7 separate regions of the Homo sapiens genome follow, and all the other regions are linked to region 3. The links come from fine-mapping of genetic effects on gene expression. A gene starts in region 3. Each other region holds a variant in brackets. All regions are shown on one strand. Distances are between the middles of the regions. Region 1 holds the start of STK25 (serine/threonine kinase 25). Region 2 holds the start of HDLBP-AS1 (HDLBP antisense RNA 1). Region 3 holds the start of FARP2 (FERM, ARH/RhoGEF and pleckstrin domain protein 2). Region 4 overlaps HDLBP (high density lipoprotein binding protein). Region 5 overlaps FARP2 (FERM, ARH/RhoGEF and pleckstrin domain protein 2). Region 6 overlaps HDLBP (high density lipoprotein binding protein). Region 7 overlaps FARP2 (FERM, ARH/RhoGEF and pleckstrin domain protein 2).

What was found.
Region 1: its variant is fine-mapped to the expression of FARP2 in hippocampus (GTEx, PIP above 0.99).
Region 2: its variant is fine-mapped to the expression of FARP2 in whole blood (TOPMed, PIP above 0.99). The same link has a PIP of 0.9 or more in blood mononuclear cells.
Region 4: its variant is fine-mapped to the expression of FARP2 in whole blood (TOPMed, PIP 0.98).
Region 5: its variant is fine-mapped to the expression of FARP2 in sigmoid colon (GTEx, PIP above 0.99). The same link has a PIP of 0.9 or more in aorta, coronary artery, esophagus mucosa, esophagus muscle, gastroesophageal junction and lung.
Region 6: its variant is fine-mapped to the expression of FARP2 in whole blood (TOPMed, PIP 0.98).
Region 7: its variant is fine-mapped to the expression of FARP2 in skeletal muscle (GTEx, PIP above 0.99).

The regions. Positions count from the first base shown.
Region 1 is chr2:241,505,525-241,509,588 of GRCh38, forward strand. It overlaps STK25 (serine/threonine kinase 25), which reads right to left and starts at 3,060. Exons shown (of 12, transcript NM_001271977.2): 1 at 2,919-3,060; 2 at 2,482-2,611. The coding sequence starts at 2,511. LOC107985788 (a long non-coding RNA gene) reads left to right here and starts at 3,348. Exons shown (of 2, transcript XR_001739177.2): 1 at 3,348-3,573; 2 at 3,914-4,064. RefSeq lists enhancers at 193-729, 1,885-1,934 and silencers at 2,365-2,414, 2,695-3,464. The variant A/G (reference allele first, on the strand shown) is at 1,802.
Region 2 is chr2:241,268,984-241,273,047 of GRCh38, forward strand. The region is part of intron 1 of HDLBP (high density lipoprotein binding protein); the gene reads right to left. HDLBP-AS1 (HDLBP antisense RNA 1) reads left to right here and starts at 3,181. Exons shown (of 2, transcript NR_168372.1): 1 at 3,181-4,064. RefSeq lists an enhancer at 2,995-3,074 and silencers at 3,215-3,524, 3,795-4,064. The variant TA/T (reference allele first, on the strand shown) is at 2,386.
Region 3 is chr2:241,354,003-241,358,066 of GRCh38, forward strand. FARP2 (FERM, ARH/RhoGEF and pleckstrin domain protein 2) reads left to right here and starts at 2,283. Exons shown (of 27, transcript NM_014808.4): 1 at 2,283-2,386. It overlaps SEPTIN2 (septin 2), which reads left to right. Exons shown (of 13, transcript NM_004404.5): 13 at 1-25. RefSeq lists a silencer at 2,071-2,620.
Region 4 is chr2:241,244,366-241,248,429 of GRCh38, forward strand. It overlaps HDLBP (high density lipoprotein binding protein), which reads right to left. Exons shown (of 28, transcript NM_005336.6): 13 at 3,879-3,983; 14 at 3,638-3,751; 15 at 2,691-2,777; 16 at 2,387-2,518. Among named protein-coding and RNA genes, the nearest start is that of HDLBP-AS1, 26 kb to the right of the region's middle. The variant T/C (reference allele first, on the strand shown) is at 2,040.
Region 5 is chr2:241,455,840-241,459,903 of GRCh38, forward strand. It overlaps FARP2 (FERM, ARH/RhoGEF and pleckstrin domain protein 2), which reads left to right. Exons shown (of 27, transcript NM_014808.4): 14 at 908-1,083. Among named protein-coding and RNA genes, the nearest start is that of MIR3133, 20 kb to the right of the region's middle. The variant A/C (reference allele first, on the strand shown) is at 2,065.
Region 6 is chr2:241,251,252-241,255,308 of GRCh38, forward strand. HDLBP (high density lipoprotein binding protein) reads right to left here. Exons shown (of 28, transcript NM_005336.6): 9 at 3,800-3,907; 10 at 2,142-2,246; 11 at 1,706-1,784. Among named protein-coding and RNA genes, the nearest start is that of HDLBP-AS1, 19 kb to the right of the region's middle. The variant T/C (reference allele first, on the strand shown) is at 2,182.
Region 7 is chr2:241,392,874-241,396,937 of GRCh38, forward strand. All of the region lies in intron 2 of FARP2 (FERM, ARH/RhoGEF and pleckstrin domain protein 2), which reads left to right. Among named protein-coding and RNA genes, the nearest start is that of FARP2, 39 kb to the left of the region's middle. RefSeq lists a silencer at 279-338. The variant G/A (reference allele first, on the strand shown) is at 2,047.

The DNA.
Region 1 (4,064 bases), 150 kb after region 3:
CGCGTCCTCCCGCCCTGCTCTACTCCCTGCTCCCTGCTGAGGCCATGCTGCTCTCCACACAGGGCCTGGAGCTGAATCTGCTCCATCACAGCAGCCCCGGTAGGGAAACCCCTGGGTGGGCACTCAGACCTCTACTGCTTCACAGCAGGGGAGCACAGCGGACCCCTAAGCCAGAGCCAGGGCTCATCAGCCCAAGCAGAAACTGTGTGACAGGAACCCTCTTGGCTGTGATCCTGGCCCTACAATGACATCGCAGGCCAAGCCAAGGCAAGCCATCCCCACCCCCACCTGGAGAAGAAAGGGTAAGTGGGCCCCTGGCCTGGAGGCTGCGAATCCTCTTTTGGATGTAGCAGCAGCTGTGGCCTGGATGATCACTCGGGCCACTCAGCTGACTCGAGCGGTGGACACCTGTTCTCCACATTAGCCCTGGGGCTGCCAGGTCTGGGGCCTCCACTTGCCAATGTGTCTGCTGTCAGTGTTGCCCCACAAAACAAGGGGAATGACCCAGCACACATAGCTGAGTGGTGATACAGTGCTCTGGCACCCCACAGCCATTCGGGCCCTCCAGGGCCAGGCAGGAACTGGCCAGGTAGAGGGGAGAAGTCTAAGGCAGGAGCACAGGCTATGGGGGGAACGCGCCCCACTCTCCCACAAAGGGGCTGCCCCACAGGTCCACAGGACACCATGGCAACCATCTCAGGAGAAAACCACAGCCCCTCAGGTTTTCTGCCACTATATGAAGTCAAGTCTCTCATCATCCAGGCTGGGACAAAGGGATCCCTAAAAGGACAAAAGGAGCTTCCTACCTTTGGAATCCCTTCTCCAATGTGCCCGCACTCCCTTCCCTGTGTGCGATCGCACCAAGAACCAATAGCACACAGTTACAGGGCACCTCGGAGCTCCAATTTCTCATCCTGTGACCCAAAGGAGTTATTTCTGCAGTTCTTAAAAATAAACTGGTGGCCGAGCGCGGTGGCTCATGCCTGTAATCCCAGCACGTTGGGAGGCCAGGGCAAGCAGATCACCTGAGGTCAGGAGTTTGAGACCAGCCTGACCAACATGGTGAAACTCCGTCTCTACTAAAAATACAAAATTAGCTGGGCATGGTGGCGCATGCCTGTAATCCAAGCTACTTGGGAGGCCAAGACAGGAGAATCGCTTGTACTTGGGAGGCAGAGGGTGCAGTGAGCTGAGATTGCACCATTGCACTCCAACCTGGGCAACAAAAGCGAAACTCCGTCTCAAAAAAATAAAAATAAAGTAAAATAAACTGGTGGCAGATTTTTCTCCCAGCACCTTAGTCATGTAAGTTACCAGATACAGAATGCCAAAAGCAAACCAAAAATCTGTTAGCTTAATTCAGCAACAGTCAGCAAGCCCCAGTCTCATCTGTGACCACGCAGGTCCAGGTTGCCTGGCCCAACAGCTGCACATGGTGTTCCGGGTCTCTAGGCTGGTCCGGTTTCCTCCAAAGCAGCCCTGACTCCAGTTCCTGCCCCTACGCGAACAGACGCCCTTCCTGTTCCACTGCAGGCCCAACTCTCCATTCAGCACATAGGAGTGAACAAGGAGGGCCACACATTTTAGCGGCGATTCCAACGCCTTAGGTAGAGCCAAGGCATCAAGGAGAATAAAACCGAACAGCTAAGATGTAAGAAAACCCAGCGGCCAGAGTCAAAAAAGTGGGGAGGGGTAGAGAATGCAAGTCCCCAGGCCCCAGGTTGGCTGACCCCACCCTCCTTCCCCGGCAAGCCCTTTGGCACCAGCAGCTGGTCCTCATTCCAGGCTAAGGGCTCGCCGT[A/G]GTGGCTCCCTCCGAGGCTGTCCCACCAGACGCTTAAAGGTGGCTCCATAGTGGAAACGACTTCTTTAAAGAAGAAAGATGAGTCTCATGTTCGGGCAACCGCCCGTCGCAGGGGTTAAACGGTCCTGACAGAGCAGCCTTTTCACCCTCCCCTGGGCCAAAGCACACACGTGTTCTCTGCTTTCCCTGCACACCGGCCACTCAGATCTGCTTCTCCACAATCTCAGCCCCTCAGCGCCCGCCAGGGTCTCCCCTACAGCCCCTGCCCAGCCCAACACGGCCAGAATGACCCGCGGCCCAGGCCGAGGCCGCAGGGTGGCCCCCGACCTTCCACTGCCTTCGGATGCTGACATGAGGTTCCCGCCCCGCGCTGGGGGCAGCGCCCCGTCCCTGCGCCGGTGTCTCTTCACGCACCTCCACCGCCCTCGCACAGGCGGAGCCACCAGGGGCTCGGTTTCTAGAGGCCTGCGAGCTTCTGCCACGCAAAACGCCACAGGCACACGGCAGAGCCCCGGGGCCGCCCTGCGCCCACCTCAGGACGGCTCCGCTGGTCGCACGACGCGCGCTCCTTCCCTCACCCCACTGCCCGCTCCGGCGTGGCGCTCCCCTCTGAACCCCCAGGAGACTCTGGAGCCCCTCGGTGAGAGGCCGCTAGTCTTCCTGACCTGCACCCTTCTCACCTGGTTGGCAAATCCCCGGAGGTGAGCCATGGCCGCGCCGCCTCAGACCCTCCGCCAGCAGCCCCAGGAGGCGTCTGGATCCCGCGGAGAGGCGCGGAGCCGGCTAGCTCGCCCCTGCGGCGTCAGTCCACTGCGAGGGACACCAGGGGCGCTCGGTGCCCAGTTCAGTCATCTGAGACCGACCTCCGGGGCGGCGGGCTCCATGGGTGGGGGGGGGCCCAGGAGACCCCCCAGGCCGCCGGGGCCCCGCCACGCCCGGGCCTAACGCCCAGGCTCCCGGGGGCTCGCCGCCCCTCCCGTCGCCGCCCCCACCTCTTCCAAGGCAGCTTCCTCCCGGTGCCCCCGCCCCGGTGTCCCCGCCACCGAGCCCCGCCCCGGGCCCCTCCCTCTGCCCCCTCCCCAATCGCCGCAAGCGCCCCGCCCGGCAGCGCGCCCACCTCCGCGGGGCTCCATCCCGGCCTCCCCCGGCCCGCTCTGCAGCGCCCGCGAAGGCTCCCACCCGCAGCCTCTGTTCGCCCGGGGACCCCGGGCCTCCCAGCCCGCGAAGCAACGGTGGTGGCGGCAGCGACCGGAGAAAGCCCGGAGGCGACGGCGAGGGCGGTGCTCGGCGTCGCGGCCCGCGCACGGCTCTCTGGGACCCCGAGTCCCACCGCCCACTCCGGGCCCGGAAGCCTGCTGGCGTTGGACTACAAGTCCCGGCAGGCTGCGCGAGAGGGGGCCGGGGCTCGCATGCGCGCCGCGAGGCTCTCTGGGACCCCTAGTCCTGCTCCCGAAAGGTTTGGACTGCGTCTCCCGGCAGGCCGCGCGCCTGGGCGGGCGGGGCACGTGGTCGTTGTCGCGTCGCGCCCTCCCTGCCTCGCCCTCGCGGGTCTTCTGCGTTTGCTGGCGCCTGCCAGGCGTCGTCTCCGACGTTACGGCGGCCGCGCGGCCCTCTCCCTTGGGCTCTGCCCTGCGCAGCCCTGGTTCGAGCGGGCCAGTGAGGCCCGGCGCCCTCCCCGCCTCGCCACGAGGATCCACCGCGGCCGCCCAGGCTTCTAGCCTTGTCGTCACGGCACGGAGATAAGCCCGCGCTGGCCACATCGCGAAGCCCCTGTTCGTACTGAGACCCCGCCCGGGATCACGCGCACAGGCCAGGGCGCACCAGGCCTTGGAGAAGCTACCGGCACAGCCCATTCCTTGGGCGAGTTGCTTCGCCTCTCCTGCCTCAGTTTCCTTACCTGTCAAGGGGTGGTCATAGGACGTCCTTGGTCACACCGTTGTGGGACCCACCTGGGCTAGAGCGCGGGACGCGCCCAGGACAGTGACTGCTGCTGGAAGCCGTCATGGCACTCCCCAGGGTCCGGGAGGGACTTGCAGATCCCAAGGCTACCTGGTGCGTCCCCGTGCCCCGTGGGCCGCCAGGTCATAGTGCCCCCTGTGTGCATTCCCCTAGTGCACCGCAGGGATCCCCACCTGTCCGGTGAGGAAGATTTGTCCCTCCTGCATACTGTGTCCACCCTTACAGGCCCTCACTCTCCATGATGGCTCAGCACAGGTGACTATCCTGACCTCCTCACATCCCTCCTTCTTCGAGAGGGTTCTGG
Region 2 (4,064 bases), 85 kb before region 3:
GCAGCGCTTATGGTGACCAAGAGCTACCGTCTTCAAGAATTCTCCGTCTATTTTGCAGTTACTTTGTTCTTCTTGCTGTTAGCCTGTAAAAGTCCTTCAGTCCTTTCTAATCCACTGGGGATCTAGAAACCAGGTCATGAAATCGCAGGATTGAAAGGAACCTTCAAAGGCTGTCTGGGGAGGACCAAGAACTCTGTGAAGTAGGAGGGTGAGTCACCTTGCCTTAGGGGACTCTGGAGATGGGAGGCTGGCGACCACATGTGCTCCTCAACCATGAAAAGGTGGAACTGCTGACAGGAGTGAGGCATGTGTCTAAAATGGGAAAAGCAATGACAGTAACAGGAACACCCCACTCAACTGGAGAAGACTACTCGTACCGTGACAATAATCTTGCCCTTACGACACATGGGTCCGGAGCTGAGAAGGCGGTTCATGGCAATGGGGGAGCATCCAGTAGACTGGATTAAAGGGTCTCGCCTTTCCAGCAGAGGATGTGGACTGGTGGTATTTCTGGATTCTAATCTTGGTCATGAGTTTTTTAAAAACTCTAAATACAGGGCTTGAGTCACACAGGGAACCTGCCACAAACCAGAGACACTATGGGGCCCCAGATGCACCAGACACACAGATGTACCCCAAGACTGAAGGGGAAAGCTGGGACAAACTGATCAAGAGTATTCCATTTAAAAGCATCACCAAAATTCTAGTTTGCAAGTTTTAAAGATTAAAGTAAGAAAATTTCTCCAAAGTGTCAGATTAGCACATTCACAACTCGGCAAGAGCTCCTTGAGATTCCAAGTGTCTGTCCAGTCTGGGAGCAAAACAGGGCAGGGCACTCCAGGCTAAGGTGCCCCAACAGGTGTCCAGTGACACTTGCCTCTGGTCTCCCGCATCCACCCTCCGCCCTCCCACGCTTGCTTGCTGACTCTCACCTGGCATGGTCTCTCACTCAAGGTTGTCCCGGGCTCCAATGTCACTTCTTAAACCCAGACACCCACCCCCTTATCAAGCTAGGTTCTGGGCAAGTCTCTAGTGCCCAGTGACAGCCACACTAGAAGTCTGCAAAATGCAGTTCCGTCCATGTCAGCCCGCACCGACTCTCCAGCACGGAGCTGTGATGAGCCAATCCCCACTGTGCACCCAGTGTCAGTCTCTTCTGAGACCACTCACACACCCTTCAGAAGCCAAGTCCAGCCGGACCCTATACTGAAAGGAGTCTCAACATAAGGGAACCTACTCCTGTGTCTGAGGGAGACCCTGGAGCAGAGCCTCTCATGTTCCTCAGGCGTGCACAGACCCTCAGGCAGCCAGGTAAGGCAGAAGGCAGACCTCCAGAAAACTCCAGACTGGTTTGACAGGCTATACTGGGTCCCTAGCCTCCAGATTCCAAGTGGCAGTTTGTCAGAGCGTGTAACGAATGGTTCACAACTAGAGACACATTTAACATCTAGGGTTCTGGTATCATCAAACAACATTTTGTTTTTCTTCTAAACAACTCAAAAACCTGTTTTCGAAGACTGCGTTTTAAGCAAGCATTTGATGACCCACATGTAAATGCAGACCCTGTCCCCACCTGAAATTCTGGGTGAGATTTTCTTAAAAGTCAGTCTCATTCTCCTTCTGTGCTCCCAATCCAGTGAGGCACAGCCCAGGGGTCCACCTGCCTCTGGTTCAACAAAGCAGCACCTAAGAAGCTGACCCTACAGCCCCATGTCCACCCCGCACTGCTACGCCCTGCTCCTGGCTCTGCCTTCACAGACAACACCCACGAGGGTTTAATCCTGTTCCATGTGGATCTTTCAGCAACCCCAGGACAGCGCCAGGCAACTCCACTTGCTATCTGAAGTTCCCAGGATACCTTGGGCAGGCCTAGATACCCAAGAACAGAGGCTAACATCGGGTATCTCAGATTCTCACTGGATCTAACAGTACTGTCCAAATCAGGATTGAAAGGAACCTCAGATATTAATCTAATCCCATTTCTTAATACCACCAGGGACAGGAAATTCATGGCCTTCTCAGGGCCCGGGTCCACCCCTGCATGGCTGTAAACGCTCCACCTCAAGTTATGACAAAATCTACAACTTCTTTCCCCTTTCTGGCCATGGAGAACAAGTCCGCTCTCCTCCAAGGCTCCTTCTGGTAGGTGAGCCCTATCTCCTGTCTCCTTCAGTCCCTCCCATATGGCCCCAGTCCCTTCGTGATTCTGGCTCTCCCAACTACTTTTCCCATAGGAAGCTCGGATCAATCAGTGTCCAGGTCCACCTAATGTAAACCTCAAACTATACTGAACCTGGACTTTTAATTTTGTTTCCCAGAGTGCAAACATCCAAAGCAAAAAAGGTCACATCTCAGAATTTAACTTTCAGCAAACAGAACTAGAAC[TA/T]AAGGAAGGAGGGCAGGAACCAAGACCCCTTTCCGCCCTAATACGTGTAGAGCAAAACGTGGAGTCCTGACAGAGCTGTGTGTTGCGTGGGAAACCTGGTGCTTACAAGTTTAGCACAAGTCTAACAGGTTTCTGACAGCAACAAAAAAGGCTTCACATGAGGGGTTCTACTTTTTTGCTTTTAAACGAGGAAGTAATTAAGTTGATTCCCTTGTGATAAGTTTTGCCAACTACATATTCAAGGGGCAACAGTCTTCGAAGAGAATTATCAGTAATACTCCAGGAAGAATTTCATTTCAGCCTCAGTTAATGAGACCCGCAAGTGCTTTAAAGCACCAGACAGGACCGGGTATGGAGGGCACCAAAAAAGCCTCCGGCTGAAACCCAGACTTCTCCTCTTCCAAAACTAAAATTACTCAAGACCACAAACCAAAGTTCAGAATGGGAAAATAAAATCCTGATCCACTCAGAGATCACAAGATCGAAATCTAGGAGAGACCACAGGCGACTGGCGAGCAGAAGGCAGGCTCCGCTCCGCACTTCTCACCAAGTTCTGGAAGTCGGCACCCATCCTGCATGGAGGAACTTTCGCAGATGCCACCTCAGCACGGCCCTCCCACAGGCCACGAGGGCCCGCGGGCGGGGACAGGCTTAAAGGGACAGCAACCCCTCGGCCTCCCCGCCTTTCATCCAAATTCGGTACTTTTCCGTAATGTATTTTTCATCCACGACCCTGGGGCACGTCCAAGTTGCACTCCAGGCCCAAGAAGAGCAGCTTTCCCCACCCCCGAACACGTAGACTGACGCGGGCCCCGCGCGGCAGGTGGAGGTGCTGCGGGGGCCCCGCCGCCCGGTCTGCGCCCAGACCCCCGCCCCGCCGCCACCTGGGGGGAAGGACCCCGCTGGCCTCCCAGGGACCCCCACCCTGGCCGCACACGGCGCCCCCGCCGGAGCGGGGGAGGGGAGGGCCGGCCCCGCCAACGTCAGCGACCTGGGCTCAGGTCGGCCGCCCCTCCGCGCCGTGCGGCCACGGCACCAGGGGTGCCCCACCGAAGCCCCGGGAGGAGGCGGGGGAGCCCAGCTTGCAGCCAAGAGCGGCCCAGCGGCGCCACCGGACTTGAGAAAGTTTGTGCGCGCCCCTCCGCGCCACGGCCACGCGCAGAAGAGACTCGGAGCCGGCCCCAGGTCTGGCCCGGAACCGCCACGCGCGGTAAGCAGGACACCCGCGGGCGGGGGCCGCAGCCTGGGGCCCGGGTGGGGGCCGCGGCACCCGGGCCCCTCCCCCTCCGCGGCCTCCACGTCAGCAGCCACCCCCCACCCCCCCGCCCGGCAGCCCGCCCGCCCCGTCCGCCCGCCCGCCCAGGCCTCCCAGCCCCGTGTTGCGCGCTCACTCGTGGGCCCCCGCCCGCTGGTCCTGCCGCTGGCTTACTCGCCCCCCGCGCGGGAGAAGCCGGGACGCTCCGAGGCGCGGCGCCCGGGCCCCGGCTGCTATATAGGGCGGCGGCCCAATCCCGCCTGGACACGTCAGCGCCCGCCCGCCCCGCCGCTGGGGTCCCCGCCGCCCCGGGCCGCCCAGCACCCGGGAGGCCCACCCAACTGCAGGCGTGGTTCTGCATCCTTTTTTCGGGTGGGGAAGGCGGTGCCGAGGAGTTGGGAAATTAATCACCTCCAGAAAGCA
Region 3 (4,064 bases):
AAAGCACTATTGTTTAGATATTAAATGAGTATTTCTCTTGGTTATTTGCAAGGGAAAGTTGTGAGGTTTTCTGGGAAAATTCAAAGTCTTGACAACATCTTTGTATAAAATCAAGAAAAATTACTTGAATCAATAGTGTCAGTACTGGACAAGTTTGTACGTATTGGAGATCCAGCCCAAAAGAAAGCACAAAAGATTGGAAAGGAATTATTTACAGGTGATCAGAACATCTACTTAGAAAGTACAAGACATCTGGTGAAAATTAACACTAAGAAGTCAGTGATATCTATTTTCTAATTAGAAAATGTAGTGAGAAAAGAAATCGCATTGATAATAGCAACTACTAAATTACTGGAAATATAAGTGAATGATTGAAATATATCTAGGAAGAAATTTCTAACCTATAAATTTTCAAGAATAGGCTAAGGCGGCTCTGCCACTTGAGTAAAGGAAACTGGAAACCTGAATTGATCTGGGTGGCTGGACACCTACACTCCAAGGCCTCTAGCCTTCTTCCTGCCCACTGGACTGATCATCCCAGGACCACCTTGGGCCCCTTTTACCTTGCTATCAGTGTTTTCTGAGCTTCCTTATAGACAGACCCCTGGATACTGAAACTTGCTCTCTCTAGTTCCTCAGCTGACAGCTGCCACGCCTGCTGCCTTCCCTCCAGACTGCCAGCCTCAGGTCACCAGCACACACCCTGCATCCTACCAGGGGTCAGTACCACCCTCTGGCCAGGCTCTCACCTGCACTATCCCCACCCGGCCCTGCCCGTCTGCAGGCAGGGATCCTCTGTTCTGGGGTGTGTGCACCACTCTGGGCCTGGTGGTGTCATTGGGGGTTGGTTAAAGGAAAAGCCCCAGAGGTGGGTGGCACATGAGGGGAGCATCCCGCACAGCTGAGCCCAGTCTTGGTGTGCCTGGGTCTCAGACCCCATAGTTGTCTCAGGAGAAATGGAGGTTCCCCTGAGCCAGCATTTCTCCTGTCTGGGCTTCTGGGAAACGAAGGGTCAGGTTTCACTCTGGAATCCACAGCACCATAGGAGGAGTCTCTTAAGTGCCCGGGTGTTTCCTGAAGTTAATTATTCCCTCAACAGCCACATGGTGACAGTGGGTGACAGGGCCGGGCTAGGAGAGCACGATGGGTAGGGTCTTGAAGAACACATAGGAGTTCAATGAACTTCTCAAGAGAAGGGAAGTGTGCCACAGCAAGTCAGTCTTCCATTCTCGGGTGGGGGTCCCTAGGCCAGAGGAAGGCCGTCCTGGCCGCCACCACGGAGCAGCCTGTCTCAGCCTTAGCACAGCCTCGCGCGATCCTTCGATGATCCCCTTCGGTCCCTGTAGTCCCACGAGGGATGCAATGCGTTGGAGGAAGGAGGAGGCTGGCAGCCAGGGACTGAGCCAAAGGGTGCAAGGACAGCCGGCAAGGCCCGGGCCAAGACCTATCCCCGCCCAGCGAGCCAGGCCTCGCCCAGCACCTATCCGCGCCCAGCAAGCCTAGGCCTCGCCCAGCACCTATCCGCGCCCAGCAAGCCTAGGCCTCGCCCAGCACCTATCCGCGCCCAGCGAGCCTAGACCTCGCCCAAGACCTAGCCCCGCCCAGCGAGCCGACTCCCCGCCCAGGACCTAGCCCCGCCCAGCGAGCCGACTCCCCGCCCAGGACCTAGCCCCGCCCAGCGAGCCGACTCCCCGCCCAGGACCTAGCCCCGCCCAGCGAGCCGACTCCCCGCCCAGGACCTAGCCCCGCCCAGCGAGCCGACTCCCCGCCCAGGACCTAGCCCCGCCCAGCGAGCCGACTCCCCGCCCAGGACCTAGCCCCGCCCAGCGAGCCGACTCCCCGCCCAGGACCTAGCCCCGCCCAGCGAGCCGACTCCCCGCCCAGGACCTAGCCCCGCCCAGCGAGCCGACTCCCCGCCCAGGACCTAGCCCCGCCCAGCGAGCCGACTCCCCGCCCAGGACCTAGCCCCACCCAACGAGCCGACTCCCCGCCCAAGATCTAGCCCCGCCCAGCGAGCCTTGGCTTCGCCTAGGACATTGCCTCGCTCAGCAAGCCGACGCCCCGCCCAACGAGCCGAGCGCTGCACAGATTTATATCCTACGCAGCTGCCTGCCTGCTCCCGCCCCTTCTCCGTCCGTTCACCAATCAGAACTCGATCTTGCGCTTTCAGGCCGCGGGACGGGAAGGCTCCGCCCTGGCGCCCCGCAGGCCAATCGACTGCGCGTCCGCGTCGCGGGGGCGGGGTCAGGGCGGGGCGCGCTGCGCGGGGGCTGCCGGCGGGCAGTTGGGAGCAGGCGACGCCGACGCGAGTCTGGCGGCTGCTGCTTGCGACTGCGGAGGCCGGGCGAGGCCGGTGAGGACGCGGCGGGCGAGCGAGAGGCCGAGGGTGAGGACGTGAAGCGGCCTGGGCGCGTGGGGCAGGGGTGGGCCTCTCCGGGTGGGCGGCGAAGCCCGAGGCCCGAGGCGAGAGGCCCAGGCGGGGGGGGCGCTGAGGCCGCGGTCCACCAGAGATGGTCCCGCCCGGCCTCTGAAGGCCATCGTGAGGCGGCTGGAGCTCCTAGGCGGGTCCGGGTTAGAGGAGCGTCCGTCTGTAGGGAGCCTGCCGCGTGGGGGCAGGCGGGGCGGTGGGCCGGGGAGTGGCCCGCGTGGACTCCCGGGTTGAGGGGTGCCGCGTGGAGGAGGCCGGTGGGGCTGTAGACCGGGGAGTGTCCCGCGTGGACTCGCGGGTTGAGTTGTGCCCCGTGGAGGCCGGCAGGGCCGTGGGCCGGGGAGTGTCCCATCCCGGAAGGACACCCCAGAGTGGGCCATAGGGACCCGCAGGGTATGGGCCTGGAGGTGCCTGGTGGAGGCATTTTGAGCCGTTTGCCTTTTTAGCATTTCTTTAAATTGTATCTTAAAGGTGGGAATCAAGTGTTAGGTGTTAATATTTTTACTCCACTAAGGGCTAGAAATACTCATAAGCCAGTGGGTAGCCTTTGGGAAACCCATGAAAACTGGGGACCAGAATATGGCCCAGTACATTACACACCCGAATTACGGGCACCTTTTCCGTTTACGCTATGGCAGCAACCCCTGGCCTATCATGTGCCATTAATGGATGTGAAAAGCAGAAATTAGAACAAGGCATCATTGAAGGAAAGATTGTCAATACATAGTGTTAAAAAGGGATGGGCAAATTTAAAACCCAAGGCCAAATCTTTAAAGGGTGGTTTTTCTCTCTGGGTTTTTGTTTTTGTTTTGTTTCCGTGGGATATTTTTGTCTGGGCCACTGTGTAAATGTTTGATAACCCTGAGGTGGCAGTGGGTTAGCGTGTTGGTCTTGTGTAGACTGCCTTATAACAGGCGACACAGATTTTCTCAGTACCAGAGAGATGGGAGAGGACATTTGAGGTAGGGAAGCATGGAGTAACCTTTACTTGTAGGCCAAATATAATTTAAATTTTCTACATCTGCTTGTTGAAAGTTTTGTTTTGTTTTGTTTTTTGAGGTCCTTAAAGGTTTAGGAAGCACTTCATGCTCGTTATTTATTCAGTTTTCCAAAACTCTTCAGAGACATGACCAAGTTGCACAGCCCCGTTTTAAAGTAGAGGAAAGGGAGGTTGAGAGAGGTGGAATGACCAGTTTAGGGTCACACCTAGGGTACTTGCAAATACCATCTGTACTTCTCATGTGCCCTATCCTTGTTGCAGATTCTCATTAGGTGGTTCACTGTTAACAAACTAAATGCTGATGATGCAGTTTCCTGGACTGCAGACGTTTGCTGGCTTATTTACCTATAGGACTATCAGTCGTTAGTAAATTTCCAGGTTCCTTGTATACTAATTCCTTTCCCAAAGAGGAAGTTGATATAAGGTGTATTCATTTCTCTCTGCCTCAGGTTCCTTATTCAAAAAATGAGTTTAAAATTTACTTGGCCAGGCACAGTGGCTGTAATCCCAGCACTTTGGGAGGCCGAGGCAGGCAGATTGCATGAGCTCAGGGGTTCCAGACCAGCCTGCTCAACAGGGCGAAACCCCATCTCTACTAAAAATACAAAAATTAGCTGGGCTGGTGGCGCACGCCTG
Region 4 (4,064 bases), 110 kb before region 3:
AGCTAAGAGACATGAAGAAAACTACACAGAGACACATCCTAACTTGCTCAGAGACGGTGGTAAAACCCTAACAGCAGCCAGAGGGAGAAGGTTTGTCATGGACAGAGGAACAAAGCCAGGGGCACCATCAGCTTTCTCATCAGAAACAACAGGAGACGGCAATGAAGCCAAGTCTGGAAAGGAAAAAAACTGCCAACCTAGAAACCTTTATGCAGCAGAAACAGCTTTTCGAAAGTGAAGGAAAAAAATACTTGCAGACATACAGAATGTGAAAGAAGTCATTACCGGATACACACTACGAGAGATGTTGAGTGGTTTCCTTCAGACAGAAGGAAAATGAAGACAAGGATCACGCCAAGAAATGAAGAGCTCTAGAAATGGCAACTGTGTGGATAAATACATACATTTTTTCATATTATTTAAATCTCTTTAAAAAATAATGGAATTTTTTTTAAAGGTTAATAATGTAAATGGTGGACTGAAAGCCAATCATATAAAATCATGACATCATGGTGGCTGAGCACGTGGGGATGGTGGTAGTTGCTGTTTAATGGGTGTAGTTTCTGTGTAAGATGATGGAAATGCTCTGAAAATGGACAGGGTGATGGTTGCACAACCTTGTGAATGTACTCAGTTGAATTAACCATTAAAAAACGATTAAAATGATACATTCTGCTATGTATATTTTACCACAATTGAGGAAAAAAATTACAGTAAGTTATTTAACCGTGTTTGTTAAACATATGTAATAAATATAAATATGTGATATATAACATATATAATCACAACTGTAATTAAATGCAAACATCATAATCTTTTTTCTTTTTTTTTTTTTTGAGACAAGGTCTGGCTCTATGGCCCAGGCTGGAGTGCAGCAGCGCAATCTCAGCTCACTGCAACCTCCACCTCCCAGGCTCAAGCCATCCTCTCACCTCAACCTCCTGAGTGGCTGAGACTACAAGCATGCAGCACCATTACTGGCTAATTCTTTTTGTAGTTTTAGTAGTGACGGGGTTTTGCCCAGGCTGGTCTTGAACTTGTGAGCTCAAGTGATCCGCCCACCTGAGCCTCCCAAAGTGCTGGGATTAGTAGATAGATTTAATTTAAAAAGCAAGCTGCCAAAAAGAAACTCACTTTAGTATCATATAAAGGAGGCTGGGTGCAGTGGCTCACACCTGTAATCCCAGCAGTTTGGAAGGCCAAGGCGAGAGGATCACTTGAGGAGTTTGAGACCAGCCTGGACAACATAACAAGACCTCATCTCTACTAACTAAAAGAAGAAAAAAATTAGCCTGGTGCGGTAGCATGCACCTGTGGTCCCAGCTACTTGGAAGGCTAAGGTGGGAGGACTGCTTGAGTCTGGAAAGCCAAGGCTGTAGTGAGCCATGACTGCACCACTGCACTCCAGCCTGGACGACAGCAAGACCTCATCTCCAAAAAAATTTTAAATATAAGGGGGAAAAAAATAACATAGACTTTGGAGCCAAGCATACTACCAGGGAAAAGGCATCATTTTATAATGGCACAGATTACATATACTGTGAAAGAGAGGTGACGTCAGTATTGACAGCAAAAGGATAATGCAGGACTATTCTAAAAAACTTCATGTTAATACATTTGACACCTTGGAGAAAATAGAAAACCCCTTGAAAGACACTAATTACCAAGTACACACAAAGAAACAGATGATCTATCCCTACAGTGCAATATTATCCTGAAATAAAAAAGAACAAACCAACAATACAGGTGACAACACACACAAATGTCAAAATATCCTGCAAAGTGAAAGCAGATGGGCCCAATAAAGAGTAGATGTTATGATTCCATTCACACAAAAGCGTAGACAATCCAAAAGCATCTACTGTGGCCGAAAGCAGACTGGGGGTTGCCTGGGGATAGAAGTGGGGGTGGGGGGAGTGTGGTTTTCAGGAGCTGCCAAGTGGGATGGAGGGAGACTGTAATACAAAATGGCATGGGACATTTTTGGGGTGATGGTGGGAATGATTCCATGGATGTATACACACGTCAAAACTATTACA[T/C]TGTACACTGTAAATATGTACAATTTACTGCATGTCAATTTTTTTTAAAGGAAAGAAAATACCGTAAATACCTTCAGATAAGATTTTCAGGTAACAAGAAGAAAATGTCTAATAAGACAAGTGCCCACGTCAAATGTTACTGCTGCAGGGTCCAGGTAAGTAAGTATCGTGAGAGACAAAGGCAGAAAACTGCTGACCAACTCATCAGTAGCCTGGATTGAAAGGTGCAATCTTCCACATCAGCCTGCGCTGGCCCAATGACCCTGCGTGACTCAACCCCAGGCTCAATCTTAGAGGCTGTTAGAGATTTTACTGGAGGATCTCCATTAGAAAACATCTCCCATTACCAGGTCTTTCTGAATAGACAGAATCCTGCTCCGGGCAGCTTCGCAGTTGGCTCGCTTGCCTGTGATGATAATGGTCTCTGAATTGCTATTCTCTGCTGGAAGGTCGATTTTGGTGTTGCTTTCTTCACGAATCTACAGGGAGAGAGATCACCATGAGAAGCTGACTAGAGCTCTCCCAGAGTTGAGACACAGTTGAGCACAGGGCTAGAAGTAAGGAAGAGTCCCTCCTAGTCTAAAACCAAAATGGTGCAGGGCTACAGAGGACAAGGCAAGAAGAAGCAAGATGCAGCGGACAAGTTATCACCTTTTTAATGTTTGCGCCTCCTTTCCCAATGATATTCTTGTGAAACTGTTTGAAGATCGGAACAGAAATTGAATAGCTATTTTCCACCTTAAAGACAAAAAACACAGCCCGATTCACCACCTGTGCTAGAGAGTAAAATACAGTATCCCTTCTACCCCTAAGGGTAGCATGAACACGACAGAGCACTGGTATTTGCAAACAAACCTTCAGAGGTTTGTCATGAGGGTAAGTGAGATAGATCATTTGTCCAACAACTAACTTACGTTGCAAATTACAGTCAATCGATGCAAGTCTACTTTTTGGCTAAGAGAGAGTTCATGTCCCATGCCAGGATCAGAGCTGGTTAAGGAAGGGGCTCAGAACACACATGGAGACAGCACGGACCCCTACGCTCTGGGCAATTCTGCACTCACGGCAGTGATGTGACAGCAGCTCACAGTGCTGGAGTCCTTCACCATCGCCTCTCCCAGGGCAGCCATCAGCTAAGGTGAAGCCCACGGAAATACATGGCTGCCTGTGGCCTTCTCATCCACTACTCACTACACTTTCTAAACCTGTTCCCACGTCAGTTTTTGAGAAAAATAATAAATCAGTATATGACTCCTCATGTCACCTGTTATACCTCTTATCTTACTGGATGGGACAATTTCTCTAAGTATCTGAAGACTCCTCAAGGAAACAAGGTAACTGGGCATGAGAAAAGGCAAATCTCCCCACCTGAATTCCACAAACACTGCAGTCTTAACAATGACTGCCAATCTAAACATCCAGGTATTAAGTGAGAAGCCGTCACCACTTTGTCCCAAGTCCCTGAGATGGAAGGCCAGCCCAGGGCCTATGTGCTTTCCCCAGAGCAGGGGTCCTGTGGGGGTCAGGACTTCTGACAGGACGCATGCCCCACCCACCCCAGGTGCTGTCATACAAGAAAGGATGTGAAACACCCCTACCAGATCTGCCACCATCTTCTGCATGTATTTTGTGCATTTTTCCACCTCATTCTTAGGTCCTCTGAGCTGGACAATGTCACTTTTTTGTGCTGGGTCTGGAAAGTTAATGATGACCTAGAACAAATCATGGGGAGACTAAGTTCAAGTATGAGGAAGGACATATATCCCAAATATCAAATATTCCTGAAGTGTGACTTGGATCACTCCTATAGAGTTACAGAATGTCTCTGGGAAACTTTACCTCTGGGAATTTGTCACGAATTTCACGGATCCGTTCACCCTTCTGCCCAATGATTGTGCGATGAAATCTTTGCTCAATGATTAGATCCTTGGTACGCTCATTTTCCTAAAAATACAATTAAAGTAGATGTCATTTATCACAAGCACGGCGAGCAACTCCCCACTGACACAAGGGGACACCAGGGAG
Region 5 (4,064 bases), 100 kb after region 3:
TGCCATTCTCCTGCCTCAGCCTCCCGAGTAGCTGGGACTACAAGCACCTGCCACCATGCCCGGCTAATTTTTTGTATTTTTAGTAGAGATGGGGTTTCACCGTGTTAGCGAGGTAAAGTTATCTTTAAAATTTGGCACTTAATAGTTACTGGTTTCCCATAGAAAAACATTAGAAATTAACCTTTGAGAATTTTTTTAAATAGAAAAGGATTTTTTTATTATAAAATACACAATGAAATATATTTCATCATCTTTAGAATTGGGCTGCAAATTTGGCACCTATTTATTCGAAAACAAACATGGTTTTAAGAAGGGGAAAATTATTACTGTGTTTTAGAAAACCAAAATAAAATCCCCATTAATGAAAAACTCAAGGAACTGGAAAACAGTATCATGAATTGAGCAGTTTTATATGATCCGTTTTTTAATGAATAATAAGTTTGGCCTTAAAATAGACATTGTCTTTTCAGATGTTAGCCCTGGTTTGACATCTTAAGTCTCTAACCTCTAGCAATGCACATAGAAAGTGTTCCCCCGTCCTGGTGGTGCCTTTTGCTTTACACACTTTGTGGTGCTTAGTTTTATCATAGTTACATATTCTGCAGAGCCCAAAAGAAGCCCCTAGAAACACAAGGTTGGTATCCAGGCCCCCCTAGAGTCCGGGGAGGATCCACACTGTCTGTGGATTGCTCTCTGAAATTGGGTAGATGAACCATCAACCCTCATTTTCATTTTATGTCATGTTTAGAATTGTGTGTGATAGAGGCTGTACATACACATTTTACAGGAAGCGCCTGGCACTGTGTGAGGCTGGCGGTTGAATGGTCAGGAGAGTAGTAGCGGCTCTAAGCCAGCCTCACAGCCCTTTCTCATTTCTCGCTCCATCCCCCTCCCCGTTCATTTCCAGGCCTTTCCACGAAGAGTCCTCAGCCTTCTCCCTCCAGCCGGAAGAGCCCCCTGAGTCTGAGCCCTGCATTTCAGGTGCCTTTGGGCCCAGCTGAACAGGGCTCATCCCCACTCCTGAGCCCTGTCCTCAGTGATGCTGGCGGAGCCGGGATGGACTGCGAGGAGCCCAGACACAAGGTGGGCCCCTCGAGGCTGAGAAGCTAGCAGAGGGTTGCAGGGTGGGCCTGTTTTCACTGTTCCTTCGGGTGGTGCTGGTGGGGACCCTGGGGCGGGGCAGGGAAGGGCTCTGCACTCACAGCCGCCTTACCAGCCTCCTGAGCAGAGAGGAGGTACTGGGCCGCCTTCCCTAGCAAAACCTTCCTGAGACTTTCCTCTTATCTCTGGGACTCCAGGTTCCTTCGTACAAAAACGAGTTTCCTTATTCATTTAGCAAACGGTCCCTGGAACCCACAGGCTCCATGTGTCAGGCTGGATCTTCCAGCCTCCCCCACTCTTCCTTCCTTCCTTCCCACCTTCCTCATTTCTCCCTCCCGTCCTCCCTCCTTTGCTCCTTTCTTCTCTCCCTGCTTGGTCAAGCTTCTACTTTGACAATTGAGTAACTGGGAGGAAAGATCTGGGTGCTAAGGGAGGGTGCACTAGGGACTGCTTTGGGTTCCGGAGAGGCTCTTGGGCAGGAGGCCCAGTGTAGAAAGATCTGGGTGCTAAGGGAGGGTACACTAGGGACCGCTTTGGGTTCCGGAGAGGCTCTTGGGCGGGAGACCCAGTGTAGAAAGATCTGGGTGCTAAGGGAGGGTGCACTAGGGACCGCTTTGGGTTCCGGAGAGGCTCTTGGGCGGGAGACCCAGTGTAGAAAGATCTGGGTGCTAAGGGAGGGTACACTAGGGACCGCTTTGGGTTCCGGAGAGGCTCTTGGGCGGGAGACCCAGTGTAGAAAGATCTGGGTGCTAAGGGAGGGTGCACTAAGGACCGCTTTGGGTTCTGGAGAGGCTCTTGGGCGGGAGACCCAGTGTAGAAACATCTGGGTGCTAAGGGAGGGTGCACTAGGGACCGCTTTGGGTTCTGGAGAGGCTCTTGGGCGGGAGACCCCGTGTCGATGTTGGAGACAGTGGAGGAGCCACCTGGGGCGAGGGGGCGGTTCTCTGCTGTTGTGGCACGGGG[A/C]GGGGGGCACATGGGCCACAGACAGGGGTGAGGCTTTATGACAAAGTTGAGGCAGTGTCCCCTATGGGTCTCTTTTTATCAGAGATGATAGGAATAAGGGCACAAACTGAGAGTCTGCAGGGAGAAAGTGACCGAGCAGAGAAGCTCACTGCTGGCAGGCACAGGGCAACCAGGGGCAGGGATGCTGTGGCCTCAGGGTGGCCTCCACTCTCCTAGCCCAGGGGAGTCTGCCTACAGCTACGGTTTTGCAGATGGACCCTAAAAGAAAAGACTCAGGGTCCAGGGAGTTTGTAGACTATATTGGGCCTGGAGTCCACAGAGAAGGGAGACATGGGGTCCCTGAGTGGCAGCTGGATGGGAAGAGGCCATGGGGCCTCTAGGAGGGAGGGAGTCAGTGCTGGTACAGGGGGAGGTATGTCATTGTGACACCTCAGCACTCCTGCTTTGGCCCGAATTGGCCAGAGGATATTCTGTCCAAGGCCTGCCTTCCAGATGCCAGGGCTACCCGTGGGATGCTGGGACTCTCAGCAGGTAGGATGGCACAGGCAGGGCAGTCTCCTCCTTCCTGGTGCCCTGAGGGTCCCCCTGGATCCCACTGGAGTGGAAGGAGCCCCCTGGTCTGGAGGCAGCAAAGGATATTAAACGTACTGCTGCACGAGGCCTGCAAGTGAGGGCTAGTTCTGGGCCCTGGCAGCAAGACTGTTTCCAAAAAAGATGTCTTTTTATTTTATTTTGGAAACCTAATGACAATCTCTTTAGTTCACTGTTTCTTTGGTACAAAAAAAAAAATGGCTACCAAGCAGTCTGTTATTAAGACTAAATTTTAATTTGTAACTTTTTATATTACAAAAATCAGTTGATTCTTTAGATGGTTCTATAGGATGACAGCTTGTCACATCTGAGGATAATTGGGCTGGTGGCAAGTGGCCCTGGGAGAAGCCTGTGAGTCATGACGTGGCATGGGGCCAGCAGCATGGCAAGGCCCTCTGGGATGGGGGCACCTCAGGGTCCTCACCGAGCCATGCCCTTGAGGAGTTGGTGGCTGGGTCACTGCAGAGAAAGATTCGGCAGCCCTTGGGCCCAGCCCCTGCGTGTGGGCACCCTCAGCCCTGACGTGGTGTCTCCTGTTGCCTCTCCTCAACACCTGGGCTCTGGAGGGAGGGCTCTGGGCTCTGCTTCAATTCTGTGTGTGTGAGTTGAGATAGCAAGGCTGTTGCCCAGCACAGGTGGGCTCCGAGATGGCAAGGATGGCCCTTTCATCACCATGCAGGGGCTGCTGGTTTGACCCAGAGGTAGGTTCCCACCAGAGTACCCCTCTGTGCTGACCTCATGAACCAGTGTGCCCAGCCAGGCTGCAACAGGTTCTGGGGAGACCCCGGCCCCACATTCACTGACGGTTCTGCTGGCAAGGCCTGGCAGACCACTCTCCTGGGGAGCCAGGGTGACAGGGGTCTGAGAAGCACGTGCTGCCACTGAGGCCACCCGTCAAGCTTTTGCACTTGCACCCAGTTGCTGGGCTGTGCGGGGAGGGGCAAAGAGCTGCCCACCCTCCAGCCCACCCTCGCCAGCTGGTGCCCTCCTCCCCAGTGTCTCCCACTTGATGCACTGTTTGTCCCCTTTTTAATAGAGATTTGTGAGGATCGGCCACAGTCGAAAGGTAGGAAAGCCAAAGGTGGCAGAAGCCTCTTCCACGCTCTGCATGGGCACATAGACCCTTCATGTGGGGACAGGTGGCGAAGCTCACAGGAATTGCATGCTCCTCTGGGCCTATCCCTGGCCGCCGTCTCATCCCTGGCCTGCAGCCCAGCTTGCTGGGGGTCAGGTTTGACATTGATCTAGAGGTGGGGGCAGCGTGGCAGCTGCTGTATTTTCTGTCCCTGAGAGTCTTCTCACGGTATTCCTTGGGCTGATTGGGCGGGGCGGGGCGGGGGCAGGGGCGGGACGGAAGACCCTTCTCTTGGCCAGTCTGCTCCCCTGACTCCCCTGTGACCCACTGGTGG
Region 6 (4,057 bases), 100 kb before region 3:
TCAGGCCTAAACAAACGCTACAGTTAACCAAAACCAAAACAAAACCGTAAAAGCAAGTTTATGGTGTATGTGTGGTTCAAGTAGTGCGCAAAAAGGTCACTTTGTGCCTACAGACTCTCGTCGCTGTCACGTAAAATGCCCACAAAACATAAGACTGACACCAGAGAGCTCACCATTGCACAGGCCACAGCACAGCTGCCAAGGCTATGTTTACTCATAACAAAAACGGATACACGGACGTCAGTCATGTTATGCAGGTCGGTGTCCCACTACCTGGGAAAGGCTCCTTCATCCACTGAACTATCCAGGAATGGAGGACGTGCTTGCCTTCTCACCTTCCACCCAAAGGTAACACACGCGACGTGTGCACTTGTTTTCAGAACACGCGAGTGTGTGAGTATAGCCATACAGTTAAACAAAGAGGTGTAAAAAAACATTCTTGGTTGGGCACAGTGGCTCATGCCTGTAATCCCAGCACTTTGGGAGGCCGAGGTGGGCAGATCAACTAAGGTCAGCAGTTTGACACCAGCCTAGACAACATGGTGAAATTCCATCTCTACTAAAAATACAAAAAAATTAGCTGGGTGTGGTGGTGCACGCCTGTAATCCCAGCTACTTGGGAGGCTGAGGCAGGAGAATCGCTTGAACCTGGGAGGTGGACGTTGCAGTGAACTGAGATCACGCCACTGCACTCCAGCCTGGTGACAGAGCGAGACTCCGTCCCAAAAAACAAACAAACAACACAAAACATCCTTGGACCTGCAGCAGAATGCCCACGACACACTTCTAACAGCATCCTGTAACTGTGCTACACCTGCAACCTGGCACAGGTGAGGCACACAGCGACCTTGGCCCACATGACATACTTCCAACAGTGTCCTGTAACTGTGCTACACCTACAACCTGGCACAGGTGAGGCATATAGCGACCTTGGCTGACATATCACTGCCTCTTCAACAGAATCCCCCTGCTGGGTGTGGTGGCTCACACTTTTAATCCCAGCACCTTGGGAGGCCAAGGTGGGCAGATCACCTGAGCCCAGGAATTTGAGACAAGCCTGGCCAACATGGTGAAACCCCGTCTCTTCTAAAAATACAAAAATTAATTGGCTGTGGTGGCATGCACCTGTAGTCCCAGCTACTCAGGAGGCTGAAGCTGGAGAATTGCTTGAGCCCGGTAGGCAGAGGTTGTAGTGAGCTGAGATCACGCCACTGCACTCCAGCCTGGGTGACAGAGTGAGACCCTGTCTCAAAAAAGTATCCCTCCCCATGTTGTTTTACTTGGGCACAAATCTAGAATGTTTTTACTCTTCAGTGAGTTCCAGATCAGCAGTTTCCACGTTCAGAAGGCATGAGTACTACCAACACTGATTGGCTAACCTAGCAGGTCTGACGGAAATATAGAGAATGCTGCCCTTGGGCATGCCTTCAACATGGCCTCTGTGGGTTATTTGGGGAGGGCTTAGATGGATTTCCAAAAGTGACAATTCACCCACTGGCCAAGCAGCTCTAATCCAACCACTGCACCAAAGGGAAAAGGAAAAGTGGCCTCTTCCAGCAGGCAGGAGGATGTAAAGTCTGTAACTCCCATTACAGGCAGCAATGGGCCTGGACTGTCTGCACGGACGTCACAGTTCTCACAGCTGACACCCCCCACAAGGGTCTCAGGGCACACTGGCCCCACCGCAACAGACAGCCTCACTCACTGTTGGCACCGCTCTTCCCAATGAGGTGCCTGTGGAACTTGTGGTCGATGTTGATCTCCACATAGTCCATCCGGTTAATCTGCAGGAGGAGCACAGAGGTCCATGGATGCGCCTGGTTACTTGGCCAATGAGCTGAACCAAAACCCAGCAGTCTCCACGGTTGCCTTTTCTGACCACTCAGCTGTCAGGAATTGTTGGAGACTGCCCCTGCATCTCCCCTGAAAGATGCCTTCTTCAAGATGAAGTTTCCTCCACCCACGATTATTCCAGGACTTCGACCAGCTTCTGGTTGTTTCAGAACCTATTACTCACCCAGCTAGGATGCCCTGGGTGTCTGTGCCCGGACATGTGGGATGTCATCGAGAGATGACCGCCCATGCCCAACTCAGAGCCTCCCTTGTCACCAGCACACACAACATTCCAAGGGGTACCTTACCAAATCTTTGACCATGCCTTCTATCTGTTCCTGGGCCACA[T/C]TGACATCCTCTGTAGGGCCCTCCAGGGTGATCTTGTCTTCGCCCTCTGTGAACTCGATGTGAACCTACCACACCAAAACCAAAGAGATAGCTAAAACAGAATGGCACAGCTGCAGCCCCTGAGCTCCCAGTGGGAGCTCTCTTCGGAGCGGCTTCTGATCCCAAACTGCTTCACATAGATGTGAGGGAGGGAGGGACATATCCACAGCCATCAAACAAAGTTGAAAGGGAGGGTTAGGGAGCCATAGTCAGGAAACTAAATACTGTGGCCGAATAATCCTGCCTCTCACTAAGGACACCGTTTGCCCCACAGAAGCCACTAACATAAAGCATGCGACATGCGACATGCTCCTCCACCATCTGAACTTTTACAAGGCCTGGTCCTCTTGAGTTGCATAAAGAATGAGACAGAGCACGGATGGAATTTTAAAACTCGTATAGCTGTACCAAGGTGGTAAAGTAACTTGCTTGACATAGACAAGGCTGCCAGAGTTCCTGGTTTATTATCCTCCAGGTAAGGAGTTAAGGAAGGCAGACTGGTCCTTATATGAAGCTATACAAAGTAAAAGGGGCTGGGCACAGTGACTCACACCCATAACCTCAATATTTTGGGAGGCTGAGGTAGGAGGACTACTTGATCCCACGAGTTCGAGATCAACCTGGGCAACTAGTAAGACTCTGCCTCCACGAAAACTAGCCTGGGGCGCCTGTAGTGCCAGCTACTTGGGAAGCTGAGACGAGCGGATCACTTGACCCATGAGTTCAAGGCTGCAGTGAGCTATGACTGCGCTACTGCACCCCAGCCTGGGTGACAGAGTGAGGCTTTGTCACTAAAAAAAAGGAATAAAATAAAAAAAATTTAATTTTTAAAAAGGACTGTAACATTAATTGGAAACAAAGTTTAAATAAAACAGGAATTAAATATGATGGTTGGATTCTCTGGTATTTCTTTTTTGTTCATGTTTCCTGGGGGCTACAATCTCCTTTGGTAAACTGAGAACGCTTTAAATTCACACTTAATACAATTTGTATACAAGTTCTGCTCTTCAAAGTATTTTTTTTTTTTTTTTGAGACAGAGTCTCGCTCTGTCGCCAAGGCTGGAATGCAGTGGTGCCATCTCGGCTCACTGCAAGCTCCACCTCCCGGGTTCACGCCATTCTCCTGCCTCAGCCTCCCAAGCAGCTGGGACCACAGGTGCCCGCCACCAAGCCCGGCTAATTTTTTGTATTTTTAGTAGAGTCGGGGTTTCACCATGTTAGCCAGGATGGTCTCGATCTCCTGACCTCATGAGCCACCGCACCCGGCCCGCCAAAGTATCATGAAGTTATTTCACCATAATTACTAAATGACATGTTTCTTAAGATACTTATGAAACCTAAGAACATACAATCCTCTCTGGTTAAAGGCCAGAAGGATGGTACAGACATCTACAGACATTTATTCTGCTGTTCTTTAAGCTAACACGGAAGTTGACCATGTCAAACAGGCCAGTTAATTCAGAAAAATACACCAGTTTTCAAGGGCATCCACAGTACAAAGGTCAACAAAGCAATATCAGAAACAGAAAGACAGAAAACAAGACAAATTCAATACAACAGGTGAAAAACGTGTCCTTACCTTTGGCATCTGCTGAGTGATTTTGGCCAGGTTCTGCCCTTTCTTGCCAATGATGAAACGGTGAAGCCAGGAAGGGGCGGCGACAGAGGAGACGGTGAAGCTATTGGCCTAAGAAAATGGGAGAACAGCCATGGGTTTGCAGAGCTCAAGGTCGTGTCACAGTGAAAGCCAGGCTGCTCACCTGGGGCTCAGAGGCACGCTCTCCCCAAACCTGGGCACCTGCACTGTGTCCAGGCCCCAGGATTTACAAATCGAGAG
Region 7 (4,064 bases), 39 kb after region 3:
CAGAAGTTGCAGTGAGCCGAGATGGCACCACTACACTCCAGCCTGGGCAATAGAGCGAGACTCCATCTCAAAAAAGAAAAAAAAAAAGCAGAAGTAGCAGTTAACATCTTTTTGCTGAGATTTAACGCTACTCCTGATGGTTCTTTTTTTTCTCTCTCTTTTTTGAGATGGAATCTCACTCCATTGCCCAGGCTGGAGTGCAGTGGTGGCATCTCAGCTCATTGCAACCTCTGCCTCCTGGGTTCAAGCAATTCTCCTGTCTCAGCCTTCTGAGTAGCTGGGACTACAGGCACCTGCCACCACACCCGGCTAATTTTTGTATTTTTAGTAGAGACAGGGTTTCACCTTGTTGGTAAGGCTGGTCTCAAACTCCTGAGCTCAGGTGATCCACCCGCCTCGGTCTCCCAAAGTGCTGGGATGAAAGACGTGAGCCACTGCACCCGGCCTCCTTATGGTTCTTAGTGCAATTTGGAGTAGAAGTTTGGTGTACAGTATTTTAGGAATATGTGAGAACCCAAGATTTGAAAATGTGCCAAAATGAGAGTGAAATGCCTATCAAAAATGTTGGTGACCTTTCAAAGAATGTAGCTACAGTTTCCTTTTGAGCGCTCAAGATTATTTTCATTGTACAGTATAATATTATAAAAGGAAATTTGGGATTGATCTAATTAGGCAATAAAAATCTTAAGTAATGAAACTTACAGTACAGATATGAATTATATAATAGGAGGGGCCATCTAGATAGATAGAGGAGTTATAATTTGGCAAATGAACTGTAAATGAGCACATGAAACAAGTTAAAGGACAAAAGCTGTTTCAAGAAGAATTTTCCCACAGAGCTTAAGACAAAGAATAAAGAAGTACTTTGTTAGCCAGGCCTTTGTCGCCCATTTTCATCTAGACACAACCTTTAATAGTTTTGTAAATGTAAGTTTTTAACAATATTGTTTATACCTAAGCCTGGAAAAGGACCTTAACACCATGACCAACTAGAAAACTGGAAACACTGAACAAAAAGTTTTGCTTTTTAACTTGTATTTTTTATACTATGTTCTTAATACTGTTTCTCCTCCAGCCTAGTATTGAAACAGTTCTGATTTGAGTCAATGTTGAGTTCAGCAGGAAGCACAGTGTGATGGCGGGGTTTTCTTCCATTCTGAGCATCTGGATGATGCCAGTGCTCTAACTGGCTGTGAGGCCCTTCCGACCTAGTGCAGGGAGAATCTTGTTTCATCTGATCATTTGGTACTTTGGGAACATGCAGTGATTATTGTAGTCCACCTGATAGTGAATTTCTGTATTTTTAGGACCAGAAGGTATGTTTTAAGTCGAGAAGATTTGAAAGGATAAAAGTGGACATGTGGGCCAGGTGCTTTGGCTCACGCCTGTAATCCCAGCACTTTGGGAGGCCGAGGCAGGCTGATCACGAGGTCAGGAGATTGAGACCATCCTGGCTAACACGGTGAAACCCCATCTCTACTAAAAATACAAAAAAATAGCTGGGCGTGATGGCGGGCACCTGTAGTCCCAGCTACTCAGGAGGCTGAGGCAGGAGAATGGCATGAATCCAGGAGGCGGAGCTTGTAGTGAGCCGAGATCGCGCCACTGCACTCCAGCCTGGGTGACAGTGCGAGACTCCATCTCAAAAAAAAAAAAAAAAAGACATGTGACTGATACAAGTGACACTGAAAATAGAACTGATTATGACACTTTATGACCTACTGTCCAGGTCGTAAGGCATCTATACAAATTATGGAGAGTGAACCTGTGGAAAATTACTTTGGCAAGAATTCTTGAAAAAAGTTTGGTTTCTTTAAAGTACATTATGGAAAATATTTTGATTTTTAAAATATGTTTTACATGTTGGCAGGAAAAAGAAATTATTGGATGCTGTGTTGAGTAACATGCACCCATCATGGAATCAAAGGGCTCTCCCTCTCATCTGTGGTCTTACTTTTTGTAGACCTTATTAAGAAGCTGTTTTGCACGCTTGAGGACCTGTCCCGAATGAACCCTACTCCCTACTCAGGAGGGGCATGAGCCCTC[G/A]CTGTGTGTGATGTTTTCTGGTGATGCTCACACTGTTCTGTGTGGGCAGACAGCGAGCAGCAGTATTGGACTTGGAGAGGCCGTGTGCCAGGCATGGTGCTCAGCGGCTTTCCTGTGCTACCTTATTACACTCCCATAAAACCCATTCAGGGTAAGAGTTGTGTTGTTCTTCAATTGAGGAAGCCGAGCCTAAGCATACCCACCAAGTGGAAACCAGGATTCCTACTCCAAAGCCTCTGCCCTTAGGACGGTGTGAGGAAACCTGTTCCTTGTGATCAACTCAGGAGCCACAAAGGGCCTGGAGAATATCTGCTCCTCTTCTACTTAGAGCAGAGGATGACTGACCCTTGGCTTAATGGCTGTTGGTACTGTTTTAGAGATGATTATACAATATACCAAAAAGTTCAAAGAGCTAAAAATATATCTCTATACCTTATTTTATATTTATCATTTTGACCATCAATTCTTCCTTACATTTAGCTATTCAAATTAAATCTGTTTTTTCTATTTTGGTCTTCTTTAGGTTTGAAAAATAACAGGTCAGCCTCTTCCCAGATTTCTTGACATCCTTGGAAACCATGCATTTATGCCATTGCAGAGAAGCTCAAGAATGGCCCAGATCCCTGTGGTCACCTGGCTGGTTTGCAGAGCCTTTCTTTGTGGCCTGCATTGTACCTCACACACTGCCTGCTACTTCTGGTCATGTTGAATTGCCCACCTTTTAATAACTTATGTCAGGTTGGACTTCAGTATTTATGGTCATAACAGAAATGTTTCTTCCAGTTATGAAGTGATTTGTTTTTTCATTAATAGACATCTGAGTGCCTACTATGTGGGGGGAAAAAAGGGCTCTCCTGACAGTTGTTTTTTTGTTGTTGTTGTTTGTTTGTTTGTTTGTTTTCCAATAATTTCAGTTGAAGTATCAGGAACTACCTGGGATTCTGTCCTCAGGGATAATTCTTTCTGTTGAAAGTCTCCAAGAGTGTGGTGATCTAATTATTGATCAAAGTTCATAATATGGTTTCTGCCCTCCTGAAACATATGGCCTACAAATTATCTATTTTTATGTTTAGTACTTTAAAAATGATATATTAAAAAATTAAACTAGAGTGATGATACAACTATCTGATCTTTGACAAACCTGAGAAAAACAAGCAATGGGGAAAGGATTCCCTGTTTAATAAATGGTGCTGGGAAAACTGGCTAGCCATATGTAGAAAGCTGAAACTGGATCCCTTCCTTACACCTTATACAAAAATTAATTCAAGATGGATTAAAGACTTAAACGTTAGACCTAAAACCATAAAAACCCTAGAAGAAAACCTAGGCATTACCATTCAGGACATAGGCATGGGCAAGGACTTCATTTCTAAAACACCAAAAGCAATAGCAACAAAAGCCAAAATTGACAAATGGGATCTAATTAAACTAAAGAGCTTCTGCACAGCAAAAGAAACTACCATCAGAGTGAACAGGCAACCTACAAAATGGGAGAAAATTTTCACAACCTACTCATCTGACAAAGGGCTAATATCCAGAATCTACAATGAACTCAAACAAATTTACAAGAAAAATCAAACAACCCCATCAAAAAGTGGGTGAAGGACATGAACAGACACTTCTCAAAAGAAGACATTTATGCAGCCAACAAACACATGAAAAAATGCTCATCATCACTGGCCATCAGAGAAATGCAAATCAAAACCACAATGAGATACCATCTCACACCAGTTAGAATGGCGATCATTAAAAAGTCAGGGAGCAACAGGTGCTGGAGAGGATGTGGAGAAATAGGAACGCTTTTACACTGTTGGTGGGACTGTAAACTAGTTCAACCATTGTGGAAGTCAGTGTGGCGATTCCTCAGGGATCTAGAACTAGAAATACCATTTGACCCAGCCATCCCATTACTGGGTATATACCCAAAGGACTATAAATCATGCTGCTATAAAGACACATGCACACGTGTGTTTCTTGCGGCACTATTCACAATGGCAAAGACTTGGAACCAACCCAAA